4 linked regions of the Homo sapiens genome follow. The protein of the gene in region 1 binds, or shares a complex with, the protein of each later gene. Each region holds a gene or a part of one and is shown on either strand. Other genes may lie near its edges.

Region 1 (7,033 bases):
TTAAATTAGTGGACCCACAGAAGAACGAAATCTTAAAAGTTAGAAGGAATTTAAGAAAGCCTTCTAGTTTAAACTCTAAATTTGCACACGAATTGGTCTGGAAACATAGAATTCTTTGAGGTTTTGTTAGTTTTATAGTGGCTATAGCTGTCTTCCAGAATTGAATGAGTATACACGTACATCTCAAAGTTTGCTTTGAAAGTATGATTGAGTTCATTTAGGGATGGATACATTGGAAAAACAACTTAAAAGACTTGAGTTTGGTCATGATTCTGCTATTTAGCTGTGTGACATTAAATCTTAATATTTCTGAATAATAATGCCTTCCTAAACCCAATGTTCATAGAATTGTTCAAGGATCAACTAAGAGGCCTGGCGTGGTGGCTCACACCCATAATCCTAGCACTTTGAGAGGCTGAGGCGGGTGGATCACCTGAGGTCAGGAGTTCGAGACCAGCCTGGCCAACCTGGTGAAACCTCGTCTCTACTAAAAATACAAAAATTAGCTGGGCGTGGTGGTGGGCGCCTGTGATCCCAGCTACTCGAGAGACTGAGACAGGAGAATCACTTGAACCCAGGAGGTGGAGGTTGCAGTGAGCCTAGATCGCGCCACTGCACTACAGCCTGGGCAACAGAGTGACAGAGTGAGACTCCGTCTCAAAAAAAAAAAAGGGTCCACTAAGGAAGAAATTTGGAAACTACAAATTGAGTAGTTCTGTTATGATATGTTATTTATTCTACCACATGGAGGGAAGATTGTTTCTCTTAGGAAAAAAAAAAATCATAATCTATAACAGAAGTGGTCCTAGCTTGGAAGATACCTGGAGGGACATGTGTTTGTGAGTAAAGACATGTTATATCCACATCCCAGAGTCACTAATCATTTCTTTAACCTGTGGAGTGCACCTTAAGTATACCCTGAAAAGTCTAGTACTCCATGGAAATTCATAGTATCATCTTCTTTCCCCCTCTTTTTTAAAAAAAAATTTAATAAGTTGAGGCAAAATCTAAAATACAGATTGAGTTGTATGAATATATACCTAATTTAAAGTGGGAGTTATAGAACAACTGGAAAATGGGGAAATGCAGATCAGAATCCTTTCAATAGCTGAACTTTAACAAAAATTTTTTAATGGAATGCAAATGTACTTTACAAGTTAGATCAATTTTAGTTAACTTTTTATTTTAAATACTGTTCATTAACTCATATAGCTTTTTCTAGACTTACAATGGCATTTACTTTTAATTATATCCTTTCTAGAAATTCTGAACATCTCCCTTTTACTCTTGGCCATTGTGCATAGTTTCTAATCCTATACCATCCCCACCCTATTTCTAACAGGTTTTTGTTTTGTTTTGTTTTTTGTTTTTTTGAGACAGAGTCTCGCTCTGTTGTCCAAGCTGGAGTGCAGTGGCCCAATCTCGGCTCACTGCAACCTCTGGCTCCCGGTTCAAGCACTTCTTGTGCCTCAACCTCCTGAGTAGCTGGGATTACAGGCGCCCACTACCATGCCCGGCTAATTTTTGTATTTTTAGTAGAGATGAGGTTTTGTCATGTTGGCCAGGCTGGTCCCAAACTCCTGACCTCAAGTCATCCGTCCTCCTTGGCCTCCAAAAGGGATTACAGGCGTGAGCCACTGCCCCTGGCCTCTAACAGGTTTTTTATTACTAAGGTAGGATGACTGTGATAACAAGATATGATAATGAAAATGCAGTTGTATGTCCTGCATATGAATATTTTAAAATGATTAATTTATTTTTGAAATGAAAATGTTTTCATTCAGGACTACTATAAAGCTTTGGAAGATGCAGATGAGAAGGTTCAGTTGGCAAACCAGATATATGACTTGGTAAGTAAAAGTAATGTGCATACTGTGCCATAAGTACTTGAATAACAGATTATATCTTAAATTGTATTGGCTTAAATGTAGTAGGAAGAAGCAACTAAAACTGAAGTATTGCTCTCTTGATCACATCTAATTTGACATTTCAGTGTCCATTTTATGGTTTCTTTGTGGAAAAGTCAGAGTGGTTAGTTAATGTGGTGAGAACTGTACATTTTAGCAAGTCTATACGGCGGTAAGGTGGTTTCTGATGTTAGATATTTTTTAAACAAGAATTAATGTTTAACTTTATTTTACTAATCCTTGTCTTCTTAAGGTAGTGTGTTTACTTGCCTTATACATCATTTTGAGATTGTTTCTGTGGTAAAATACACCTAAGAAGACTGCTTTGACAAGAGTTCTTGGTAGTCTGATTAAAATGAAGAAGAATCATTTGAATCAGTGTTTATGTGAGTGATGTTAAAAGATCGTATGTAACAGCTGTGTCAGTTGTTTAAGCAATACAAGATGACAAACTTTAAACAAGATTCTTTTTTTGCAGCAGCACTTCTAAAAGATTGAAAACACCAAGAAGATAGATAGAATATTCACTATTTCTCATATTGATGCAATTGTGGTGCTCTTTTTCATTTGAAACATCTTCTCCTAAAATATACACTTTAAGAAATAGTCATTTCTGTTTTTGCATTAAAGTAAATTAAAGCAGAAAACACATGCTCACTTTTGGCTAACTTCAGTGTATAGATTTCATACTTATGTTGTCTTTCCTGGGTACAGATTTATTACTGAACAAGTACGTGTAAGTAAAATGTCATTGGTGAGCAGGACACAAGATAAAAGGTGAACACCACATATGGTGTGAATTGTAAATGCTTATACCACAAACTTGAAAATGTGTCATGTAGAGCCATGGAAAATGTCTAGTTGTTTTTATGTAGTACACACATTTTAATGGTGCTAACAACCTGGGCTCTTTTGTTCATAGAGTTATTCTGAAAAAAATTTCATAAAAGACACTGCCTAAAGATAGGTAGAATAGGCTGTAGCTTGATTTACTGTGGAATAAAAACCAAAAAAAAAAAGGTCTTAATTGTTTCAGTCTTTAATTATGTCTATAAACTTAGAAAAAGGCATTTACATTTGAATCTAGACTAATTTGTTTAGTAACATTCTTCCTCATATTCAATGACTGTATGTATCAGTCCTTATTTAGAGACTGCCTGCTTTTTAATTCATATAGCTCTTTGGTTCTATTCTTTGTTTTGTTTATTATTTTGTTGTTTTATTGCTTGTTAGACCTTTACTAAAGATATTTTGTGTATTTAGAAAAAATATAACATAAATATATGCTTTTTAAATATGTGTGTGTGTGTATTCATCTCTTATTTAAAAACCACACTGTTCATCCACTCTGTGCCTGAAAAAAGGGAGCTGTACCTGGGTCTAATGGAGGAATAAAAAGTAAATACTAGGCCGGGCGCAGTGGCTCACGCCTGTAATCCCAGCACTTTGGGAGGCCGAGGAGAGTAGATCACGAGATCAGGAGATCGCGACCATCCTGGCTAACATGGTGAAACCCCATCTCTACTAAAAATACAAAAATATTAGCCGGGCCTGGTGGCGGGTGCCTGTAGTTCCAGCTACTCGGGAGGCCGAGACAGGAGAATGGCGGGAACCCGGGAGGCGGAGCTTGCAGTGAGCAGAGATCGCGCCACTGCACTCCAGCCTGGGCGACAGAGAGCGACTCTGTCTTAAAAAAAAAAAAAAAAGTAATACTAGAAATGGCTCTTGTCCTCAAGGTGTCTGTAAACTACTGTTGTGGGGCAGACATACCTGCAAACTAAAGTGGAGAATCCATACAGAAACATGTAATAAACATTAACCAGTTGAATATTAAGGGGTGTCTACTGAAAAACATTGAAGTAAGTCATGCAGAGTTACTTACTGATTTCTTAGAGGGTATAGGAAGAGTTTTGAACAGAGTTTGTTTAGAAAGTCAAGGTCCTGAATTAGGTATTGTATTGAGGGGAAAGCATTTCACTCAGAGATAATGGCATAAACAGAAGGAAAGTACAAATTCAGAAATTAATTGAGAAGGGATAGATTCCAAGGCTAAAGAGTGAAGTAATAAAGGCGAGGTAGTAAATTTAATAAAGCATAAGAAATACAACAGAAAGCAAGTGTCCATAATGGATCCATGCAGATGTGAGTTCAAACCCTAGCTCAGCCATTTCACTGACACCATGACTTTGGAAAAGTTATTTAATCTTGAACCACAGTTTCCTGCTGTAAAAAAGCAATATTAATTTATACCTTACTGAAGGGTTTGCATTAGAATACATACAATGCTATTAGTTTGGCAGATAGTAGGATTTGCTCCTTCTTTAAGAACTCAGTCCATCTCATTTCCTGAACTGGAATTTTCTATTTTCCTGAAGCCACTGCTTCCCTTTCAACTCTGCCAAGTGGAAGCTGCTGTCTCTCACTCTCCTAGTATCTCTGAGGCTTCTTTTTGTCTTTTCTTCTTTTTCTTCCCCCACCCTTTCTTTTCTGCCCCCACCTTTGCTCTACCCTCTTCCTTTTTATTATTTTTTTTCTTTTTCCCTTTCTCCTTCCCTGCCTTTCTTTTTAAATACTTTAATCCTATTTCAGGTGAACATTATATCCTTAATATAAAAAATCCCTTCTCTTTCAGACTTAGTGATAATCATCTCAGTTACCCTCTGCCTCTTATCACTATAATTTAATGGCTTCTAGGTGAGGCTCAGATTGAAAAACTGGTACCCGGTTCACAGTTCTCTGTTGCAATCATCTTATACTACCTAGTCATCTACTTCTTTGGCTTTTGTAAATGCTAATCCACTTCAGTCGCCACAGACTGAACCTGATCATCACTTGGAATTGCCCTGCCTCTGATACTTCTTGCGTCTACACTTCCTCCTATTTTATCAGCCCTTTCCTATTCAATCAAGAGACTGGTTGAGCTCTTGACCACTTTTCTTACAGGTACCTTCCACATTGTTGCTGCCTTAGGGCATGTTTTTACTTGCTGCATCTTTGCTTCATCACTTATGCCTTCTCTTTTTCATCTTTAGCCTCTTTTCTTTCTATTGGCTTCTATACCACAGCATTTAAACATGCTCAGGTCTTCCTCATATTTAAAAAGAACTCAGGCAATCTAATATAAATCGTGTCGTGACCGTGACTCTGCTTTAGCTAGTGTAGTCTTCCTTAATTTCTCATTCAGACTCTTTGACACTCCCTTACCTTCAATTTATTCCTAAATTTATGGCAATTGGGGTTCTATTTACTAATCCTCTATAACTTCATTTAATGAATTCTTTATTGCTAAATTCATCAGACAGCTTCAATTCTTTTTAACTGACCCTATTGGTAAATTTAATGCTTATTGCCATTCGTTTTGTCTTGCCATTCTTGACCTTGTATTACCATGTGACTGCCTGCTCTAGATGCTCCCACCTTTGTGACCTTTCTTAGTCTCCTTCTTGGGTACAGCTCATAATGATGGTGTTCCTCAGGGTTCTGTCCTTGACCTACATGGTTTCTTACTCTTCAAGTGGTTCTCACATGAAGGTGATTGTCTTCCCCTCTTCTACCTGCCAAGAGGGCCAGGAAGAACAAATTCCACAGCGTAAAGACCTGTTCTTTCAAATGCAAGTTTTATCCCCAACCTTTGCACACCACCCAAGTTGAGAGACACTCCTCTATTGCAATTCCATGTGTTCTCTTAGTGTTAACAATTATACGTTAATTATTCCTGAAGCCCAAGCTGTTTCTTTGAGTCTTTTAATCTTAGCTGACTATTCCCAGGCCCTAGAACTCAGTGTTTTGAAATTTAAAACTCAAAGCATCTCCTTTTTCTTCTCTAACTACCCTCCCCTGCCCCATCACCAACTTTTTGTTTCTAAATCTCACATGAACCACACTGACCTTGTAGTCATTCAGATTAGGGCACTGAAAGTCACCCTATACTCCTTGTCACTTCCTCACATTTTTTTTTTTTTTTTTTTTTTTTTTTTTTTTTGAGACGGAGTCTCACTCTTTCGCCCAAGCTGGACTGCAGTGGCGCTATCCCGGCTCACTGCAAGCTCCGCCTCTTGGGTTCATGCCATTCTCCTGCCTCAGCCTCCCGAGTAGCTGGGATTACAGGCGCCCACCACCACGCCCGGCTAATTTTTTGTATTTTTAGTAGAGACGGGGTTTCACCGTGTTAGCCAGGATGGTCTCGAACTCCTGACCTCGTGATCCGCCCGCCTCGGCCTCCCAAAGTGCTGGGATTACAGGCGTGAGCCACCACACCTGGCCTGGCAAACTATTAAATAAAGACTATTTTAGATTTCGATAAGTACACAGGAGGAAATAAACATTGTAGAAAGAGAGGAAGGGGGAGAAAGGGAGAGACAATTGAATAACTGGCGAAGGCTGTTAAGAATGTAGTCTAAGGAGATGACGTTTGAGGTGGTACTTGGAAAATAAGAAAGAACCACCTGTTGGAAAAGCTAAGGAAAGAATGTTTCAGGCACGTGGTATACCAAGGGCAAAGTTTGGAGTGGAAAAGACTTGGCAAGTTGAACCAAGAGAGAGGCCGGGGTGGTTGGTCTGTGGTCTGTAATGGGAAAGGAGCAGCATGAAAGGAAGCAGGCAGGAGCTAATGCATGGGGGCCTTGCGAGCCAGTCTAGGAGGAGAGTGATTCTTAGTCTAAAGCGGTGGGAAGCCAGTGAAGGACTTTAAACAGAGGCGTGGAATATAGACCTTAAAAGAGATTTTGTGTAGGTATGCCTTTGCTTAAACATTATATTATAGGAATTTTAAATAAGCATGTATTACTTTTACAGAATTTATGGTACATCACCATAGTATGCAATTATGTTTGATTTTATCCCTCAGTGTTTTATATGGCGTTGCATTTTGTTGTATTTTTTCATTGAAATATTTTATTTACTTTTAAACCAGTAGTAAACATTTTTTTTCCTGTGACCATCACTGCACTGGTCACCTCATTTATTAAGGAATAAACCAAACTACATATTATCAACATATTATCAATGAAGAAATTTGTTTTAGGGTTCCGGTAGAAGAAACTGACAGTTTATTTTAGTAGCCGTTTTAGTGAAATTTGACTAACACACACAAAAATCTATCCTGTTAAAATAGTTTTGTTCTAGAA
Region 2 (4,427 bases), on another chromosome or scaffold:
GCCTCAGCCTCCCGAGTAGCTGAGATTACAGGTGCAAGCCACCACGCCCAGCTAATTTTTGTATTATTAGTAGAGACAGGGTCTCACCATGTTGACCAGGTCTGTCTCAAACTCCTGACCTCAGGTGATCCACCCGCCTAGGCCTCCCAAAGTGCTGTAATTACAGGCATGAGCCACCGCACCTGGCCTCCAGAGTACTCTTTTATGGTCAGACTTTAGGGAATTGTGTTCATCATAACCATATTTAAGGACACAGAAATCTGGAGTTCATTCAGAGGAAGGGGACGAGGAATATTTTGATTCATTTTTTTTCGTATGTTTGTTTTGTCTTTGGAGATGGAGTTTCACTCTTGTTTCCCAGGCTACAGTGCGATGGTATGATCTTGGCGCACCGCAACCTCCGCCTCCCAGGTTCAAGCAATTCTCCTGCCTCAGCCTCCCGGTAGCTGGGATTATAGGCATACACCACCACATCTGGCTCATTTGGTATTTTTAGTAGAGACGGGGTTTCTCCAAGTTGGTCAGGCTGGTCTCAAACTCCCGACCTCAGGTGCTCTGCCCACCTCAGCCTCCCAAAGTGCTGGGATTACAGGCGTGAGCCACCGTGCATGGTGATTCTTTTTTTTGAGACGGAGTCTCACTCTTTTGCCCAGGCTGGAGTGCAGTGGCGCGATCTCAGCTCACTGCAAGCTCTGCCTCCTGGGTTCACGCCATTCTCCTGCCCCAGCCTCCCGAGTAGCTGGGACTACAGGTGCTCACCACCACGTCCAGCTAATTTTTTGTATTTTTAGTAGAGACAGGGTTTCTCTATGTTGGCCAAGATGGTCTTGATCTCCTGACCTCATGATCCGCACACCTTGGCCTCCCAAAGTGCTGGGGTTACAGGTGTGAGCCACCAAAAAAAGCCCAGCCCTTTTTTTTAAATTTTTAAAATTATTTATTTTTTTGAGACAGAGTTTCGCTCTTATTGCCCGCGTTGGAGTGCAATAATGCAATCTCACTTCAACCTCTGCCTCCCAGGTTCAAGCAATTCTTCTGTCTCAGCCTCCCAAGTAGCTGGGATTATAGTCATGTGCTACCACGCCCGGATAGTTTTTGTATTTTTAGTAGAGACGGGGTTTCACCATGTTGGTCAGGCTGGTCTTGAACTCCTTTCCTTAGGTGATCCACCCACCTCGGCCTCCCAAAGTGCTGGGATTACAGGCATGAGCCACTGTGCCCAGCCTTGATTCATTTATTCATTAACAAATATTTAATGAGTGCCTGTAATGTGGAAAATGCTGTATCACCCTGATAATATTTAGGCAATATGAGTTATAGTCACTGCCCTTAAGGAGGAGACATATATACCAATAGTGCATCGCCATGGAGCAGTATCACGGAGACCAGGCAGGTAACATGAAGTGTGCAGCCAGCCAGAGGGATGGTGGTGAACTGGAGAGGAGTGCCTGAAAGGAGGAACAGTTACTCAGCTCAGCTAATTGTTCCCCTGTAAGAATGCAGACCCAGGGTTGCGAGATTTTCTTGTTGTTTAAGAGCGACCAGAAATCTCTATATTTAAATATAATTTCCTACCTTACTAATTTTTTTTTTGGAGATATGATCTCACTCTGCTGCCTAGGCTGGAGTGCAATGTGGTGCCATCTCAGCTCACTGCAACCTCCACCTCCCTGGCTCAAGCGATCCTTCCACCTCAGCTTCCCAAGTAGCTGGGATTACAGGCGTGTGCCAGCACACCCAGCTGTAGGAGTGAATTGACAGGGCATTTGTAGAGGAGATTTTGGTATCTGGGAAAGCAAATAAGCTCCTCATCAAAGGGTACCTTCCAACTCTGAGGTACTATAGAGGGCCCAGGTGTACTTGAGAAATGAGCAGAGAGGATGTCAAGAAAAAACTTATAAGCAGAAAACTTACAAAATGGGAGGTGCCAGACGGCCTTAGGGGACTTCCATAGTTGTCTCTGGTAGTTGGCAGTGACTAGATAGCCAGGAAGATAATTGAGAGATCGTGGGACAGTACTGGGATATGGGAAAAAGGGACATTCTGATCATCCCCTCATTTCTTCCTTTGACCCTAAAGAGACATATGAGCGGCTCGAGGCTGATAAAAAGAAGCAGGTTCATAAGAAGCGGAAGTGCCCCGGGCCCATAATCACCTATCATTCAGTGACAGTGCCACTTGTTGGGGAGCCAGGCCCCAAGGAAGAGAACGTTGACATAGAAGGGTGAGTGAATCTCAAGAGGAAAAGAGATTGTGTGTTCAGCTCATGTTCTCTTGGCCCCATTTTGCTTGCTTTTCTCACACAGCTCTCCTTAACACTTGGAGATTTCTTTCAGATTCCTAACTCCCTTCAGCTCAATTTCTTTTTCTTTTTTTTTTTTTGAGACATGATGCTGCTCTGTCACCTAGGCTGGAATGCAGTGGTGCAGTCTCGGCTCACTGCAACCTCCACCTCCTGTGCTCAGGCGATCCTCCCACCTTAGCCTCCCAAGTAGCTGGGAGTACAGCCACACATGCTAATTTTTGTATTTTTTGTAGAGACGGTTTCGCTGTGTTGCCCAGACTCCTGGGTTAAAGTAATCGTCCCGCTTCATCTTCCTAAAATACTGGGATTACAGGTGTGAGCCACCGCGCCCAGCCCAGCTTATTTCTTTCTTATTCCTTTTTCTTTTAGCTTCTCTGTTCTTCTCTTTCCTGTTTTTCCTTCTAGCCTAGCTTTCTTTTCCCATCAGTCACTTAGTACGTTCCTCAGAATGTTCCCAACACCCTGCCTCCTTTTTCTCTTTCCTCATCTCTCTGATTTCCTTCTTTCTTTCTTTTCTTTTTTTTTTTTTTTTGAGATGGAGTCTCGCTGCTCTGTCACCCAGGCTGGAGTGTAATGGCACGATCTTGGTTCCATGCAACCTCCGCCTCCTGGCTTCAAGTGATTCTCCTGCCTCAACCTCCTGAGTAGCTGTGATTACAGGCATCCGCCACCACGCCCGGCTAATTTTTGTATTTTTAGTAGAGACAGGGTTTCACCTTGTTAGTCAGGCTGGTCTCGAACTCCTGACCTCGTCATCTGCCTGCCTCAGCCTCCCAAAGTGCTGGAATTACAGGTGTGAGCCACTGCACCCAGCCTGATTTCCTTCTTTCTGTATCTGTTGTCTTCTCTCCTCAGCTCTTTGTGTTTTTCCTTGTCTTTTGTCCTCAGACTTGATCCTGCTCCCTCGGTGTCTGCATTGACTCCTCATGCTGGGACTGGACCCGTCAACCCCCCTGCTCGCTGCTCACGTACCTTCATCACTTTTAGTGATGATGCAACTTTCGAGGAATGGTTCCCCCAAGGGCGGCCCCCAAAAGTCCCTGTTCGTGAGGTCTGTCCAGTGACCCATCGTCCAGCCCTATACCGGGACCCTGTTACAGACATACCCTATGCCACTGCTCGAGCCTTCAAGATCATTCGTGAGGCTTACAAGAAGTACATTACTGCCCATGGACTGCCGCCCACTGCCTCAGCCCTGGGCCCCGGCCCGCCACCTCCTGAGCCCCTCCCTGGCTCTGGGCCCCGAGCCTTGCGCCAGAAAATTGTCATTAAATGAAGAGATGTCTAGTCCTCAGAAACTTCTTTCCTGCCCTGATTGGGGCTCTTGCTGTTCCGTTTCTTCTCCCTGCTTCTCCCCTTTGTCATCTCTGATCTTTGCCTAATCTGTTTCTTTTTCCTTTTCCCCTAGTTCTTACAGGTTTCGTTGTGTTTTTTAATCTAATAAAATAGAAAGATCCCTTTTGTCTGGTGTCCAGTCTAGGGTTGGGAGCAAGAAGTATTTGAATACCTGCATATATTTGGGTCTTTATTCGATAGCATTTATTATGAGCTGTCCTTTCTAAATTGTATTCATTCCTCCAACTAAATTATAAACATCTGAAAATTGCACACCAAAACACATCCTTGTATTGACCTTCCTATCACTTTACACTCACTGTTTTGAATACAGCAGGCACCAAATAAGGAGGAACTGGCTGATTCTAGTCGAACTCATATGTCTCAGACTGGGGCTTGTATGAAGGGAAGTGGAAGAGATGCCATGGCTGTTAATGACCACTAGAGGCTCTCAGGGCTGGGCAGGGTATGGGGGCTGTGTATATGTGATCTCCCACTACCCCCCACCTGGCCAGAGCTAAAATAATAAAATGCTGAGCTCACTGTTCCCCCACCCTCTCCCCCGGCACCGGGCTCCTCCTGCTGCTGGGACAGTGCTCTAGTAGAACAGACAGACCTACTGACACAGGGGAGGTGAGAAGGGAGGTGACCACCAGGACTGGTAGGTGGGGAAGACAGGGGGCTTATGGATGAGAGCCCGGTGGGAGATGGGAGGAGAAGAGTGGCTCCTATGGGGAATGATGTGGAGTGTGTCCCTGTCTCTGTCACTCAGTGTATATTTCTGCCA
Region 3 (7,402 bases), on another chromosome or scaffold:
ATAAAGAAAGGTTTATACATAAAGAGGTGATAAACATTAATGCTGAAATAATCTGCATTAAAGGGAAAAATAAGGCTGGGCACAGCAGTTCACGCCTGTAATCTCAGCACTTTGGGAGGCAGAGACGGGTGTATACTTGAGGTCAGGAGTTCAAGACCAGCCTGGCCAACGTAGCAAAACTCCGTCTAACTCTGTCTCTACTAAAAATACAAAAATTAGCCAGGTGTGGTGGCACACGCCTGTAGTCACAGCTACTCGGGAGGCTGAGGCAGGAGAATCGCTTGAACCCAGGAGGCAGAGGTTGCAGTGAACCAAGATCGCACCACTGCACTCCAGCCTAGGTGAAACAGCAAGACTCTGTTTCAAAAAAAATAATTAAAAAAAAAAAAAGGGAAAAAGAAAATCTACCCAACAATAGCCACGTAAATTATGGTTAATTCACATAATTGACTCCAACATAGCCATTTTAAAATGTCTATTTTTTTTAAGTAGGGAGAAATGTTTACAAAGTAACTTTATGTAGAAAAAGTCAAAATGTTAAATCAAGCATACAGTACATTCTCATCCATGACAGTTCCTATGGTGTGAGCTACCTTCTTTTTAGCCTTTACTCAGTTTCAGGCACTGTGCTAAAAGTTCTACAAGTACTATTTTGTTTAATCCCAACAAAATTCTGATGTAGTTACTATCATTGTGCCCATTTCACAAAGGAAAAAATGTAGGTTCCAAACTGCCCATGGTCAATTAGAAACTGGCCAAAAGAGGAGGCAAATCGAGATCTGACTTCAAACACTGTATTCTCTTAGCTACTGTATACAGCAAAGAGGAGACTGAGACAGAAGTGTGACAACATGCTAACAGCAGTTCTCCCTCGGTGGTGGGATCAGGAACCATGAAAGATCTTTTCTATACTTTCAAATATTTTTCAAATCTTCACATAATCACAAATTGGTAAAAAGAATGATTTTAAAATCTGCAAAATAACTTTTTTAAGTGTACAGAGGGATTCAGAAGAAAAGTTAGGCAACTTACATTTCCTCATCTTCATCTTCTTCATCCACCCAAACTGGCTTCTTTTGAGGTGGAAAATTACCTTTTGCTTCATTCTCCACTTCTGAGTCACCCGAGTCTTCATGTTCTTGAACCTACAGCAGACAAAACACCCTCAAGCACTGAGATTTTCCTATCCCATGACTGCAGACACATAGGCCTTACAGCCAAATGGCTCATAGAATGTTTTTTCTACCACTCTCTGATGAAATAATGGGATGGAATGCTACCATTGCAAATGCTGGAAGCAGAGGCAGAAAATGGAGAAATCAGAGAATGGCACCGACTGGACAGGTGAGGCAAGATGGAACAGTCAAGGAGAAAAAGTCAACACTCAACACGCAGGAAGGAAAACACCAAGTAAGACAAGAACAAAAGATGAGTCTGCAGATGAAAAAAGGAGGAGAAATGTCAGAACTACAGAAATTACAGGACCGGAGGCAAACTAGAGTCAAAGATATCTCCATTTTCCCAATCTGTTTTTGACCCCCTACCTCCTTAAGAAACTTTATACCAGCAGAGAGCGCAATGCCTCATGCCTGTAATCCCAACACTTTGGGAGGTCAAGGTGGGAGGACTGCTTGGGCCCAGGAGTTCGAGTCCAGCCTGGGCAACATAGGGAGATCTCGTCTCTACAGAAAATTTTTAAATTTAGCTGGGTGTGTGGTGTGCACCTGTGGCCCCAGCTAACTACTTGGGAGGCAGAGGCAGGAGGATCACTTGAGCCTAGGAGGATGAAGCTGACTTCTGAGTTTAAAGTGTTCGGAGAATTGTGCAGGTGTAATTTATCTGTGACCAACAAGAAGAGCAACCAGTTACTATTAGCAAAAGGGAGATGGAAGACTAATAGGTGCCGCTACACTCCAGTCTGGGTGACAAAGTTAGACCGTATCTCTAAATAAGTAAAAAATAAATATACCATTAAATCTAAATTCTAAAGTTATAAATTTATACCATAAAGTTTATACTATCAAATCTAAACCTAGGCCGGGTGCGGTGGCTCACACTTGTAGTCTCAGCACTTTGGGAGGCCGAGGCGGGCGGATCACGAGGTCAGGAGTTTGAGACCAGCCTGGCGAAGATGGTGAAACCCCGTTTCTACTAAAGATACAAAAAAAAATTAGCCAGGCGTGGTGGCGCACGCCTGTAATGCCAGCTACTCCAGAGGCTGAGGCAGGAGAATCGCTTGAACCCAGGAAGTGGAGGTTGCAGTGAGCCGAGATGGCGCCACTGCACTCCAGCCTGGGCGACAGGGCGAGTCTAAAAAAAAAAAAAAATCTAAACCTAGACCACAGAATATCCCTTGAAGTGAGTTTGAGCTTCCCAAAACCAATGATAGAAATGTCCAAGTGGTTTCTACTTGCTCTACTACTAGTCTAATAGCCTTCAAACCCAACAGCTCCCACCTCCGTACACTGTTCCTTTTCCAGACGACAAAACCGTCGCACAGTTCAGCATGTTTCCAGTAATAGTTCTGTACTTCCCAAAAAGATTGCTGCCACTTCTCCTACAAGCACCCGAAGGCGGCTCTGGTAAGCAGCTGACATTAACTAGGTCAGCATTTGTGTAATAAACATGGCCTGGGTAATTCTCGGTGAGCTTTCCTCTGCCCCCTTTATCTAAAATTTCACAGGCCTCTACACACGCCCATCTCCCTTTCCCGAATGTCCTTTTTTCTCTTCAGCACTTGTCACCAACAAACCTGAAGTTTACTCGTTTATCTCCTCTATCTTGTCTCTGCCACTAGCACACAAGCGCCAAAAGGCAGGGATTTTTGTCAGTTTTGTCCATTGCTGTGTCTCCTCCAGTGCCTAGAACAATGTCCGGGACTCTCTCAAGAAAAGCCTGGTATAGAATTTAAAGGGATAGCAAAATGTGTGCAAAAAGTATGATCAATCACGCAGGGTTTGCCATTGCCAGAAAGGGTATCTGGCAACTAACAGGTTCACCAATATTTGCTAAATGAACGGAATACACGATCATTCTCAAAACATGGTGGGTCTCATAGTCACATGGGGACATAGTTACAACGGAGATGCCCAGGCCCGTGCCCACGAATTGATTCCATCAACGAAATCGAATTCCTGAATCACAAGGAACTGAGGCAGGTGATCAAAAGACCACCCTCAGTTTGGGAAGAGGCTAGCGGAGTCGAGCAGCAGCGAAAGATGCTCACGACCACAGTTCGCAAAGCAGATACCCGAGCAGCGGCGCCTCCAGGGGCGGAGAAAGACGCGGTCCCCGCCCTCCAGGCACTTTCAGTCTGGAGCAGGGAGGCGAGGGACCCGCAGCTGCGACCCTCCGCGCCCGCGTTCTCGGGCTCCCTCCCACCTGAGCGCTCCCCGCCGCCGCAGGTCGCCCAGGCTCCGCCCCCCGGAGCTTCACCGCCCACCGCGCGCCCCGCCCGAGTGCGCCCAGCCCGCGCGCCGCGGCCTCCCTCACCCTCGGGCCTCGCAGACGCCGCAGCAACGCGTCCTCGTCGTTCTCGACGTCGCCGAAGACCAGCTCCTCCAAGCACCGCTCCACGGCCGGTTTGTCCTCCTCCAGCCTCAGGCGGTTCCGCTGCCGGAGCCGTCTCTCTTCCTCCGCCGCCGCGACTGCAATCGCAGCGGCCGCCGCGCTCGGCCGGGCCGGCGGTTTCCGCTGGGATGAAGGGGCAGGCTTTTGGGGAGGCCCGCCTGGCCCCGCTCCGGCTTTCCAGTCCGGCCTCATTCCGGGCTTCCGCTTCGGCTTCGCTCCGGTTCTCCGGTCCAGTTTCATTCGTCTCCTCCGCTCCGGCGGCATCGTTAGGTTTGAGGAGAAACGCAGGCGCTCACGTGGAACCTCGCTGCGCATGCGCCCAGGCCCCTCGCGGGCCGCCGCCGCCGAAGCCCCGGGGGCCGGAAGGAGCCTGCGCAGCCTCTTGCCACGTGACCAGCACTCCCTCCCTCTACGTAACTCCCGCTCCCCTACCCAGCCCCGCCCCGTGTGGGAGTTCCTCCGGGAGGGCCAATCTTCCGGGTGTAGGGGGAAGCGGCGTGACTGGAGTGGAAAATTTTTCCAACACAATTTCGCAGCTGCAACATATTGAAAGGAGCGCAAGAAACCCCGACTATACACTGGGACGGCTGAATGGAACTTCTGCTTTTCCTCTTGGCTGTAACCACTTGACTTGACACAAGCCCCAATACGCTTTCCACCCTTCGTCTTGGTACGGTCCTTGGAGTACGGAGCCTGCAGAGGGTCCCACGGTGGAAGCGAGAGAGGAGGGTATGTAGGGAAGTGGGCCAATCGGGGCGCGGGTCACGGCGCAGGCGCGCTGGGGAGGGAGGGCTATGCTAATGTTGTTGATATCCTGGGGCCACCCGAGTTAAAGGGGGGAAATCCGGGGGCTGCTGCACCCGCCACCGGTCTGGGCCCAGCCGGGGGCCCCCTGTAGTCGCCGCAGTCCCGGGGAGAGGCACCTGCCCCCAGCCCGGGGAGGGGGCGCCGCGGGCTCGGGGAGCACGGACAACCCCTACCCATGAGGCCCTGATGGAAAACACAAAGGATCTGGTGAGAGCCGAGCGCGGCAGCCGCTTTGTGTGCCAGGTGGGGGGGACGCCTGCAGCTCTCCGACCCCAGGAACCCCGCAGCTCCCTGACCCCGCTCCCTGGCCTGCTTCTCCATCCCACGCCCTCTCAACCTCCGGAGCCCCCCTCCCCCTTCCAGCCGTTAAACGATTCAGGGGTTCCCCTCCCCCCACCCCGTCAGCCTTGGACTCGTTGGGGTTCTCTCCATCTCCTCCACCCTTTGGAAGAAAAATTCGAGAAGAAAGTTTTTCTCTGCGTCCTGCCCCCGCCCCCTGCTCTGGCTAGGGGGGAAAGGCTGGATCCGAGACTTTTCCTTTTTTAGCCACCCAGGGTGGGAGAGTGGAGTAGTCCTCTCTTCTTGGCGGGGAGGGGGAGCACAGTTTCGTTGCTTTGCAGGGGAAGGTGTCTATCTGCCTTGGGGGCAGTGCCGCGAGGCGGTTTGCACGTGGAGGTGGAAATATTGAAAGGGGGCGGGGTGGGCACGTGCGGGAGAGGTGGGAGTGGTGTTTGGGAAGCAGCCTCCAAGGCTGCATATTTAAAAGGGTTTCAAGTCGGTGGACTTCTGTGACCATTGCGTTCTCCTTTGTGAAATAAGAATCCTAACATTTCAGAGTCGGAAGAGACATTAGAGGTCATCCAAAGCAGCCGTCCCCTCTGCAGCCTCTCTGACAAGTGGTAGGTAGTCTGAACCCTGCTTACACCCCTAAAAGCACTGAGAGCTCACTACTGCCCAGGAAAGCCCATATTTCAGTAGTTCTAATTGTTGTCTGCCTACCCTTATTAGACCCTTCAGTCTCATTCATGTCCTGGTTAAGTTGCTCCTTTTTTTACTTCTCAAATTTTCTCTCACATCCTCCTCACCCACCCACTGCTCATTGGCCTATATTTTGTGTGCCAAGAAAGAACAGCAGGGAAGTGGAGGAAGGGGGGTTGAGAGATAGTGAGGGCTAGCCGAAAACTTTGCTGGGTCAGTGTCAAGTGTGCTGGCTTACATGCCTGAAGATGTTTTTCTACAGGAAGCTAAAGAATTACAATATGGGAATTTCGTGCCTGTTTTCTCTTAGGAGTGCATCTTTTTGAAGTTAGAAATTTCAGCGTCATCTCCGTGGTTCTTGTATCACAAAACACATTTGTTTATTACCTAAATCACTTCTAAGGATGTCTAAAACTGAAGTGGTTAGAAGCATCACCTGGTAGAGGGATGATTAGATGATTACCGCCCACACCCGTATTTGACCTGTGTTCCTCGGAAGCTAGTCTTTCCTCCAAGGGCCTCTCTTCCAAATGCTTTTACTCCTTCTTTTTTTTTTTTAAGTAACTATCTTTTATGAGATTTGAAATTTACGAACCATTTTAATACTTGTTTAGAGTTTACAATATTTTTAATTCTCCTTATATTAGCATGCACCAGTACTTATCACTGGGTGGTTGAGATAGTTGAAACTATTGTCACTGGGTGTTTTTCTAACATTCTCCTTCATTTGGTGAGCTATGCTGCCTCTAAAAGTAGTTTTATTGGCCTAAGAATCTTGGATATACCTATTACTCTCTAATGTGGTGAAGTGGGTGTCAAGACATAACAGGTATAATGTAGAAATAATGCATGTGATTTAAAAGCCAGCAAATAAATTTCACCTTAAGCCCCAGTCTCCTATTTAAAAGGTTAGACTCAATTTTTCTCTCCTCCTCTTATAACTTAGAGACTGTTGCTTTGCTCTTGTGGACTTAGACTGTTATTTTATTTTTCATTTGTTTACCTCAACACCAGAGTGTTTAGAAAGAAAATAGCTGTACTTTTTTTTTTTTTTTGCACCACCTCCTTCTCTGAATAACAAGTAGCTTCTATCTATCTAAAACCCCATACTGATTGCTTGTGAGTACCTTGCAAATTATGGCAACATCTGTCTTGAATAAGTATTTATTCATAGTGCCTTACGTTGTTGCGTCATGCTTTTTAACCATCCAGTTTCTAACTTTATGTAATGTTTGACATAAAATATTTCCTCTAAATCTACTCATTAGAATTCAGCTTGTGAAAAAGAATCAGTAGAGGTGTAATAATAGTGTTTTTAACATTTTAATTAATAAGGAGTTCCAAGTTTTTTTCCTGCTTACTTTAAACATGAACTGTCATGACTTAAGTTGACTGACTTTGGAGACATCTGCATTCTAAACATACTAGACAGGAACAACTGGTTTTATTTTTAAGACGCTGCCATATTCTTTAAAGCTGGTTATATGTTGACCTTATTATCTAAACCTTTCTAGATGTTCTAGTGCTGCTTTTGGTCCCTCAATAATGTTGAAAATTAAAACAACATTTTAAATTGTTTTCAAATGTAACATAGTGATCAAAGGAAAATATAAGCTATAGTTTAAAAGTGAAAACAACATATTAGGATAAATACTAAACCACTGAATTACTAAAAGCCAAGAGTGCTCAGTAGTCTGAGTAACCACATTCTAAAATTAGACAAGTGACATTCTTTGGGTTGCTCTTTGTTTCTCAGCTTTTCATCTTTAAAATGTTTGCTAAATAAGATATAACCTTTCACACTTATGTATCATTAGTCTGAGGGTTTCAAAATTCAAGAAAGAATAAAAACATCAGGACAATAAAAGAGAAAGGACTTACAATAGTTAAAACAAGCTAAGATATTTCTCCTAACACCACAGTATTCTTAACTGTGCAAGATGACTTTTGATTTCAGGCAAAAATTGCACATAGATTTAATCATTATTTTTTAATAAACCTTGGCTTAAGGATTTTTTTACCTGCAAATTTAGGATTTCTCTTCTTG
Region 4 (7,033 bases), on another chromosome or scaffold:
AAGTAAAGAAGGCATGCCTCTCCCTAAAGAGATCACACACATTCTAATAGGGAGGCATGCTTAACAAGCAGATTATAAAGTATGTGAAGTGGGTTCTTAGCCACTAAAAAAGATGAAAGTGGTTAGGAACCACTTCTTGGGTGGGGAAAAATCAAAAAAGGATTCTAGATGAGTGATACCAGGCTGGGTGCTAAAAAGAATAAATAGGCATTTGCCTCCTTGGTGGGCAAGCAGAAAAACAGGGATTTTTGTAAAGGCCTGCAGTCATGAAATAGCATACTGCATGAAATCAATGAAATCTGATGTTACTAGATCATAAAGAACTGATAACACTGGAGAGAATAGGAAAAAAGGGCCTTATACCATTCTAAAGATGTGGACTGTAATGTTAGTAGAAGGAATTAAGTAAGGGAAAGATGTGAGACAAATTTTTATATTAAAGCTATTTAATATTTTGCTTATATTCATATCAACCTAGCTTAATTTTGGTAAGTAATTAAACAACATTTGATAGTAGCAGCGGTTCTTGCAGATCTAAGATCCTCCCATTTCCATCAGCATGACAGTGTTCGCGTAGAGAAACAAACTTCCTAGGCAGGAACATACTCACCGAGTGACAGCTGCTGAAAACTCAAAATCTGAAATGCTCCGCAGTTCGAAATTTTTGAGCACCAATGTGATTCCACGTGTGGAAAATTATACACCTGCCCTCATGTGATGATGGGTCACAGTCAAAACTTCACGCACAAAATTATTTAAAATATTACATAAAATCACCATCAGGCTATGCATATAAAGTATATGTGAAAAAAATGAATTTTGTGTTTAGACTTGGGTCCCACCCTCAAGAAATCTCATTATACGTATTCAAATATTCCAAAATCCAAAACACTTCTGGTCCCAAGCATTTTGGGTGAGGGATTCTCAACCTGTACTGTTATTGGTAGTGGCTTCTAACACTTCAACTTTAAAGACCACTCCCTTAGCTTTTGGTAAAGTAGTTGAATAATCTACAAAATAGGACTTAAATATTATAGAAAAAAATCTTAAAGGCCTTCTCCTTTTATATTATAAAAATTGCCTATGTGATGATTTTTGAGCTATAAAAATGGCACTTCACATGGTTCAACCAAATAAGTTTTAATGATCGCTTTATGTTCTTAATAGGCTTCTAGTGTATTTGCTTTTAGGAGTGGTTGGAGGGTGTCGCATCCATTGTCTTTTATTACTTATATGTATATTCATAGTAAAGATAATCTCCTTTCTTTAACTTTAAATGTGTAAGACAAATCTAAGCTTAGATTGTTTGCGACTCTGAAAACAAAATCCAAGAATTCTTTCTTATTTCTTTAGAAAGTCTAGGTCTTGTTTTTATGCAGACATCTGTGGAGTTTTTGTCGGTGAATTCACACAGTAAATGATTGCATATGGTTCCTTCTGTCAGCTTTTAGTTTGGATGCTGAACAGCCTGATTATGATTTGGATTCTGAAGATGAAGTATTTGTGAATAAACTGAAAAAGAAAATGGACATCTGCCCATTGCAATTTGAGGAGATGATTGACCGCCTAGAAAAAGGCAGTGGTCAGCAGGTACAACTTCATTTGTATATAACAAGTATATACATATTCTATGTAAAGAACTGTATTGTATGGAAAGAGTGTGAGATTGCAGGTTGGGGGTAATCAGTCAGGCTTTAGAGTTAAAAAGTATGAATTCAAATCTCATCTCTGCTTATCAGTAACCTGTGTAATCTTGAGCAATATGTTTAAATTTTTCTGTGCCTTGGTTGCCCTGGGATTGTCGTAAAGATGAAATAATGTATATAAAGCACCCTAGTTCAGTGACTGACAGGCATAATGTACTCCTCAAGTTTCCCATTTGTTAATAATGTTGTAATATTGATTATTGTCCTTTAAATTTAGAAGTAAATACTTATGAACCTTGTATGTGTATTGTATGAAAATGACATAATGGTTTTACATTTAGCCAGTCAGTCTGCAGGAAGCCAAACTACTGCTAAAAGAAGATGATGAACTAATTAGAGAAGTTTATGAATATTGGATTAAAAAGAGAAAAAACTGTCGAGGGCCATCTCTTATTCCATCAGTAAAACAAGAGAAGCGAGATGGTTCCAGCACAAATGATCCTTATGTGGCTTTTAGAAGGCGTACTGAAAAAATGCAGACTCGAAAAGTAAGTGAATTTGAAGAATTTTTTTGATAATTATATAATAAAAATTATTTATAGTTATGACTGTCTCAATACTGTGGTTTAATTTATATTCAAATATGACTTTCCAATTATAAGAAAAATACTTAAATTGAACTTAAGATTTATTATGCAGCTATTAATGTTATATTTTAATGTTAATCCATTTAAAAATCAATACAAAATTGATTTCCTGGTGATCTGTGCTCCCTTTTATTGTCTTTAAATTCTAATTTAACCCTTCAAATATATAAATTTTATGGGTCAATAACTATACCACTAGTTAGAAATACTTACTAACATTAAACAAGCAACTTCACATTTGCAGAATCGCAAAAATGATGAAGCCTCTTACGAAAAAATGCTTAAGCTGCGACGAGATCTAAGTCGAGCTGTTACTATTCTAGAGATGATAAAAAGAAGAGAAAAAAGTAAAAGAGAGCTATTGCACTTAACACTGGAAATTATGGAAAAGAGGTAATGTATATTTTAATAATGTTAGAGGAAGTATAGTGCCATTAACATTTTGTATATTGAGTTAATTTATTTCCTATGCAATAATCTAATTACAGAAATATCTTTTTTTAATAATAGAGACTTTAAATATGTGGTATGATACTTTTTATACTTTTACATGTTTTCCTCTATTTTCTTTAAAAGTGACTGGATTCACTTAAGTTAAAACATACCAAGTATTTCCATTTCAAAGTGGTCTTTTTTGGTCCTTGAGTTGCATGTAGGACTTGAGTTAATTGATAGTACTGCTTCTTTTTTAATGCATATAAAATTTAAAACACTGGATTGTTAAATAGAAAAGGGTAAAGAAAGAGGGAGAAAGGCCCATATATCTTACCACTCAAGCATTTGGCAAGGTACACAATGAAAACTTAAAGAAAACTTCTGCCCTATTTCTAGTCCCTATCCCCAAAGAAAACCACTTTTAAATTTCTTGTGATTACTTTTAGAAAAATTAGTTTTAAAGCCCAGGCAATTCTAATTAGCAGAAAGATCCTTAGCACCATTTTAGGCATTACTTTCAACTTCACCAAATCTTTCACCAAAATTGCTACATTAAAATTCCAGCTTTTGATTTTTTCCCAACAATCCTCTATTTATATGCCATGATAAAGCTATAAGCCAAAAAAGTAAAAGGAAGAAACAAAAGGAATTATGTAATCTTTGAGAGAAATTGAATAGTCAAAGTTTAACTACAATCTTGCCTTAAATGTAATTGGTGTTTATAATTATATCTCAGTCAGCTAGTTATTAATGGTTATAAAGATAAATACTTATAAAACTAACTTTCCAAAATTTTCTTCTTTTTCCTGCTTTATTTAGGTATAATTGACAAATAAAAATTATATATTTTATATGTTGGTCAAAGGGTACAGACTTACAGTTATGAAATGAATACATTCTGGAGACCTAATGTACAGCATGGTTAATAACAATGTATTATATACTTGAAATTTGCTAAGAGTAGATCTTAAGTAATCTCACCACATATACACACAAGGTAATTATGTGAGGTGATGGATATGTTAATTAGCTTGATTGTGGTAATTATTTCACAGTATAAATGTATATCAAAACATCACATTGTATTCCTTAAATATATATAATTTTAAACTTTCATTTGTATAATTTTAGGTATAATTTGGGCGACTACAATGGAGAGATCATGTCTGAGGTTATGGCACAGAGACAGCCAATGAAACCTACTTATGCCATCCCCATCATCCCTATTACTAATAGCAGTCAATTTAAACACCAGGAAGCAATGGATGTGAAGGAGTTCAAAGTTAATAAGGTGATTAATGTTTTTGTGATAATAGTATCTAATAATGGGATGGTATTTTATCATTAGAATGAAAGTTAAAAAGAAAAACACACATAGGCCGGGCACAGTGGCTCACGCCTGTAATCCCAGCACTTCGGGACACGGAGGTGGGTAGATCACCTGAGGTCAGGAGTTCGGGACCAGCCTGACCAACATGGTGAAACCCCGTCTCTACTAAAAATACAAAAAAATTAGCCAGGTATGGTGGCATGCGCCTGCAATCCCAGCTACTAGGGAGGCTGAGACAGGAGAATTAATTGAATCCAGGAGGTGGAGGTTGCAGTGAGCCAAGATCACACCATTGCACTCCAGCCTGGGTGACACAGCAAGACTCCATCTAAAAAAAAAAAGATAAAAAAAGAAAAATACATATATACCCCACCTTAATGTATACTGCAATGATTGTGCCACAATATGAAGAAAAGCAGAAGTCTATAATTAAAATTTTATTTTTGTTTCTCTTCCTTATAAAGGGAAGCTTTTGTTACTATATCTGATAAAAGGAAAAATATTCCTTTTACAAGTTGTAGGATTATGAAGTATTGAAATAATTCATACAAAATATGGAGAGTTAGGGAGAAAGACATGAAATCCTCCCTGATCAGATGAGTTTTTCTTTCTTTCTTTTTTTTTTTTTTTTTTTTTTTTTGACAGAGTCTTGCTCTGTCACCCGGGCTGGAGTGCAGTGGCCGGATCTCAGCACACTGCAACCTCCACCTCCCGAGTTTAAGCGATTCTCCTGCCTCGCCTCCCCGAGTAGCTGGGACTACAGGTAGCACGCGCCACCATGCTGGGCTAATTTTTGTATTTTTAGTAGAGGTGGGGTTTTGCCATGTTGGCCAGGCTGGTCTCAAAACCCCTGACCTCAGGTGATCCGCCCGTCTAGGCCTCCCAAAGTGCTGGGATTATAGGCGTGAGCCACTGCACCCAGCCTCAAATGAGTTTTTCTGTCTTTTGTGGACACAATAGTGTATAAGAGGGAATTTTGATATCTTAATAGTAATATAATGATTTAGAAATGGAAATATTTGACAAATTAGTACTTAACTAAGTCACAATTTGTGAAGAATAAAATTTGTGAGAGGAAATAAAATTAGTGAAGGAAAACTGAGGTAAATAAAGGAGAGCCATTAATTAAGTGGCACTTTCTTGGAAAGTGTACATCTGAGGAAAAAGTACGTTATGCATTTTTTGTATGAAATTTTTCATGGCCGGGCACGGTGGTTCATGCCTGTAATCCTAGCTCTCTGGGAAGCCGAGGCAGGCGGATCACAAGGTCAGGAGATCGAGACCATCCTGGCTAACACGGTGAAACCCTGTTTCTACTAAAAATACAAAAAAAATAGCCGGGCGTGCTGGTGGGCGCCTGTAGTCCCAGCTGCTTCAGAGGCTGAGGCAGGAGAATGGCGTGAACCTGGGAGGCAGAGCTTGCAGTGAGCCGAGATCGCGCCACTGCACTCCAGCTTGGGCTACAGTGCGAGACTCCGTCTAAAAAAAAAAAAAAAATTTCATGAAACTTTGCATCTACCATACCAGTTTAATTTGAGGAATGGGAAAATTTGCCATCAGTTTTATCTCCCCTGCATCATTTAATATCATGCTCACTCAGGTTTTTTTTTTATTGTGGTAAACAGACCTTCAAGCCTGAATGTACAACCTGCCACACAGTTAGAATGAATGATGATTTCCCCAGCCTGGACTTTTTTTGCAGGGGGAGGCGGGGAGTTATTTAAAGCAGTGCCAGGGACCAGACCATTTTGTGAAAAAACATGGACTTTTTTTTTTCCCACTTTGTTAACATGGACATTTTGATTTTTAAAAAACGTAGGGGAGGGTGGGAGGGAGAGTAGAGTTATTCTCGTTATTCTCTTCAATGATCTGGAAAGTTAGAGCTGTGCCCCAAAATACTGTTTTAGTTTACTCATGTAAGTTTTTATTTAAATTTTGCATTTATTTAAATTTTATGTCCTGCATTTGTAATATATTAGTTCTAAATGTATCTTTAAAGTTTAATGGGATTGTTCCCACTGTTACTTTTTTTTTTAAGGCAGAGTCTTGCTCTGTCACCCAGGCTGGAGTGCAGTGGCGCAATCTTGGCTCACTGCAACCTCCGCCTCCTGGGTTCAAGCGATTCTCCTGCCTCAGCCTCCCAAATAGCTGGGACTACAGGCGCATGCCACCACGCCTGGCTAATTTTTTGTATTTTTAGTAGAGACAGGGTTTCATCGTGTTAGCCAGGATGGTCTCAATCTCCTGACCTCATGATCCTCCCGCCTTGGCCTCCCAAAGTGCTGGGATTACAGGCATGAGCCACCCCACCCGACCTCCCACTCTTAACTATTTTAATGTGGTCCCCCCCTCTGAGCCCTACATGATTTTGTGGACTACTTTAGTGTTATCCTTCAGTTATCATATTTTAAGATTAATTATCCTATTATTTGCTTTCCTCTATATGTGCCACTCATACTTGAAAGTTACTTTAGGCCGGGTGCAGCAGCTCATGCCTATAATCCCAACACTTTGGGAGGTAGAGGCAGGCAGGTCACTTGAGGTCAAGAGTTTGAAACCAGCCTGGCCAACATGGCGAAACCCCATCTCTACTAAAAATACAAAAAATTAGCGAGCGCAAATTGCTGTAAATGGGTAGTAATAGCACCTAAGCATAGCATAAGGCTTTGAATTAGTAGGTACTTGGGAGGCTGAGGCAGGAGAATCACTTGAACCTGGGAGGCGGAGATTGCAGTGTGCTGATACCGCACCACTGTACTCCAGCCTAAGTGACAGAGCAAGACTCCATCTCAAAAAAAAAAAAAAAAAAAAGAAAAAAGTAATAGATAATAATGTAGTCCTCAAGCACTGCCCTAGCTGACAGCTGATGTTAGCTTTTAAATAATGTTTTGCATTGCCATGGCCAACTTTTGATTTGATTATCCTGTCAAATACAACAGTAGAAATTGTGGAGAGATGCCTTATGGTTTGGGAAA

Evidence for each region.
Region 2: ING3 (region 1) and VPS72 share a complex: the UniProt entries of both Homo sapiens proteins name them as parts of the nuA4 histone acetyltransferase complex.
Region 3: ING3 (region 1) and MBTD1 share a complex: the UniProt entries of both Homo sapiens proteins name them as parts of the nuA4 histone acetyltransferase complex.
Region 4: ING3 (region 1) and EPC1 share a complex: the UniProt entries of both Homo sapiens proteins name them as parts of the nuA4 histone acetyltransferase complex.

What each region holds. Positions count from the first base shown.
Region 1 is NC_000007.14:120,953,775-120,960,807, forward strand, and holds part of ING3 (inhibitor of growth protein 3), read left to right. Parts: intron 1-1,784; coding exon 1,785-1,850; intron 1,851-2,385; coding exon of another isoform or gene 2,386-2,397; exon of another isoform or gene 2,398-3,206; intron 3,207-7,033. UniProt on the Homo sapiens protein: Component of the NuA4 histone acetyltransferase (HAT) complex which is involved in transcriptional activation of select genes principally by acetylation of nucleosomal histones H4 and H2A.
Region 2 is NC_000001.11:151,175,798-151,180,224, reverse strand, and holds the end of VPS72 (vacuolar protein sorting-associated protein 72 homolog), read left to right. Parts: intron 1-2,079; coding exon 2,080-2,224; intron 2,225-3,160; coding exon of another isoform or gene 3,161-3,193; coding exon 3,194-3,581; 3' UTR 3,582-3,921; downstream 3,922-4,427. UniProt on the Homo sapiens protein: Deposition-and-exchange histone chaperone specific for H2AZ1, specifically chaperones H2AZ1 and deposits it into nucleosomes.
Region 3 is NC_000017.11:51,257,017-51,264,418, reverse strand, and holds the start of MBTD1 (MBT domain-containing protein 1), read left to right. Parts: upstream 1-4,369; 5' UTR 4,370-4,563; coding exon of another isoform or gene 4,564-4,584; exon of another isoform or gene 4,585-4,620; intron 4,621-5,212; 5' UTR 5,213-5,276; intron 5,277-7,402. Other genes in the region: UTP18 (U3 small nucleolar RNA-associated protein 18 homolog), read right to left, coding at 1,033-1,145, 3,493-3,834. UniProt on the Homo sapiens protein: Chromatin reader component of the NuA4 histone acetyltransferase complex, a multiprotein complex involved in transcriptional activation of select genes principally by acetylation of nucleosomal histones H4 and H2A.
Region 4 is NC_000010.11:32,288,149-32,295,181, reverse strand, and holds part of EPC1 (enhancer of polycomb homolog 1), read left to right. Parts: intron 1-1,444; coding exon 1,445-1,590; intron 1,591-1,987; coding exon 1,988-2,194; intron 2,195-2,537; coding exon 2,538-2,686; intron 2,687-3,547; exon of another isoform or gene 3,548-3,725; intron 3,726-3,859; coding exon 3,860-4,019; intron 4,020-7,033. UniProt on the Homo sapiens protein: Component of the NuA4 histone acetyltransferase (HAT) complex, a multiprotein complex involved in transcriptional activation of select genes principally by acetylation of nucleosomal histones H4 and H2A.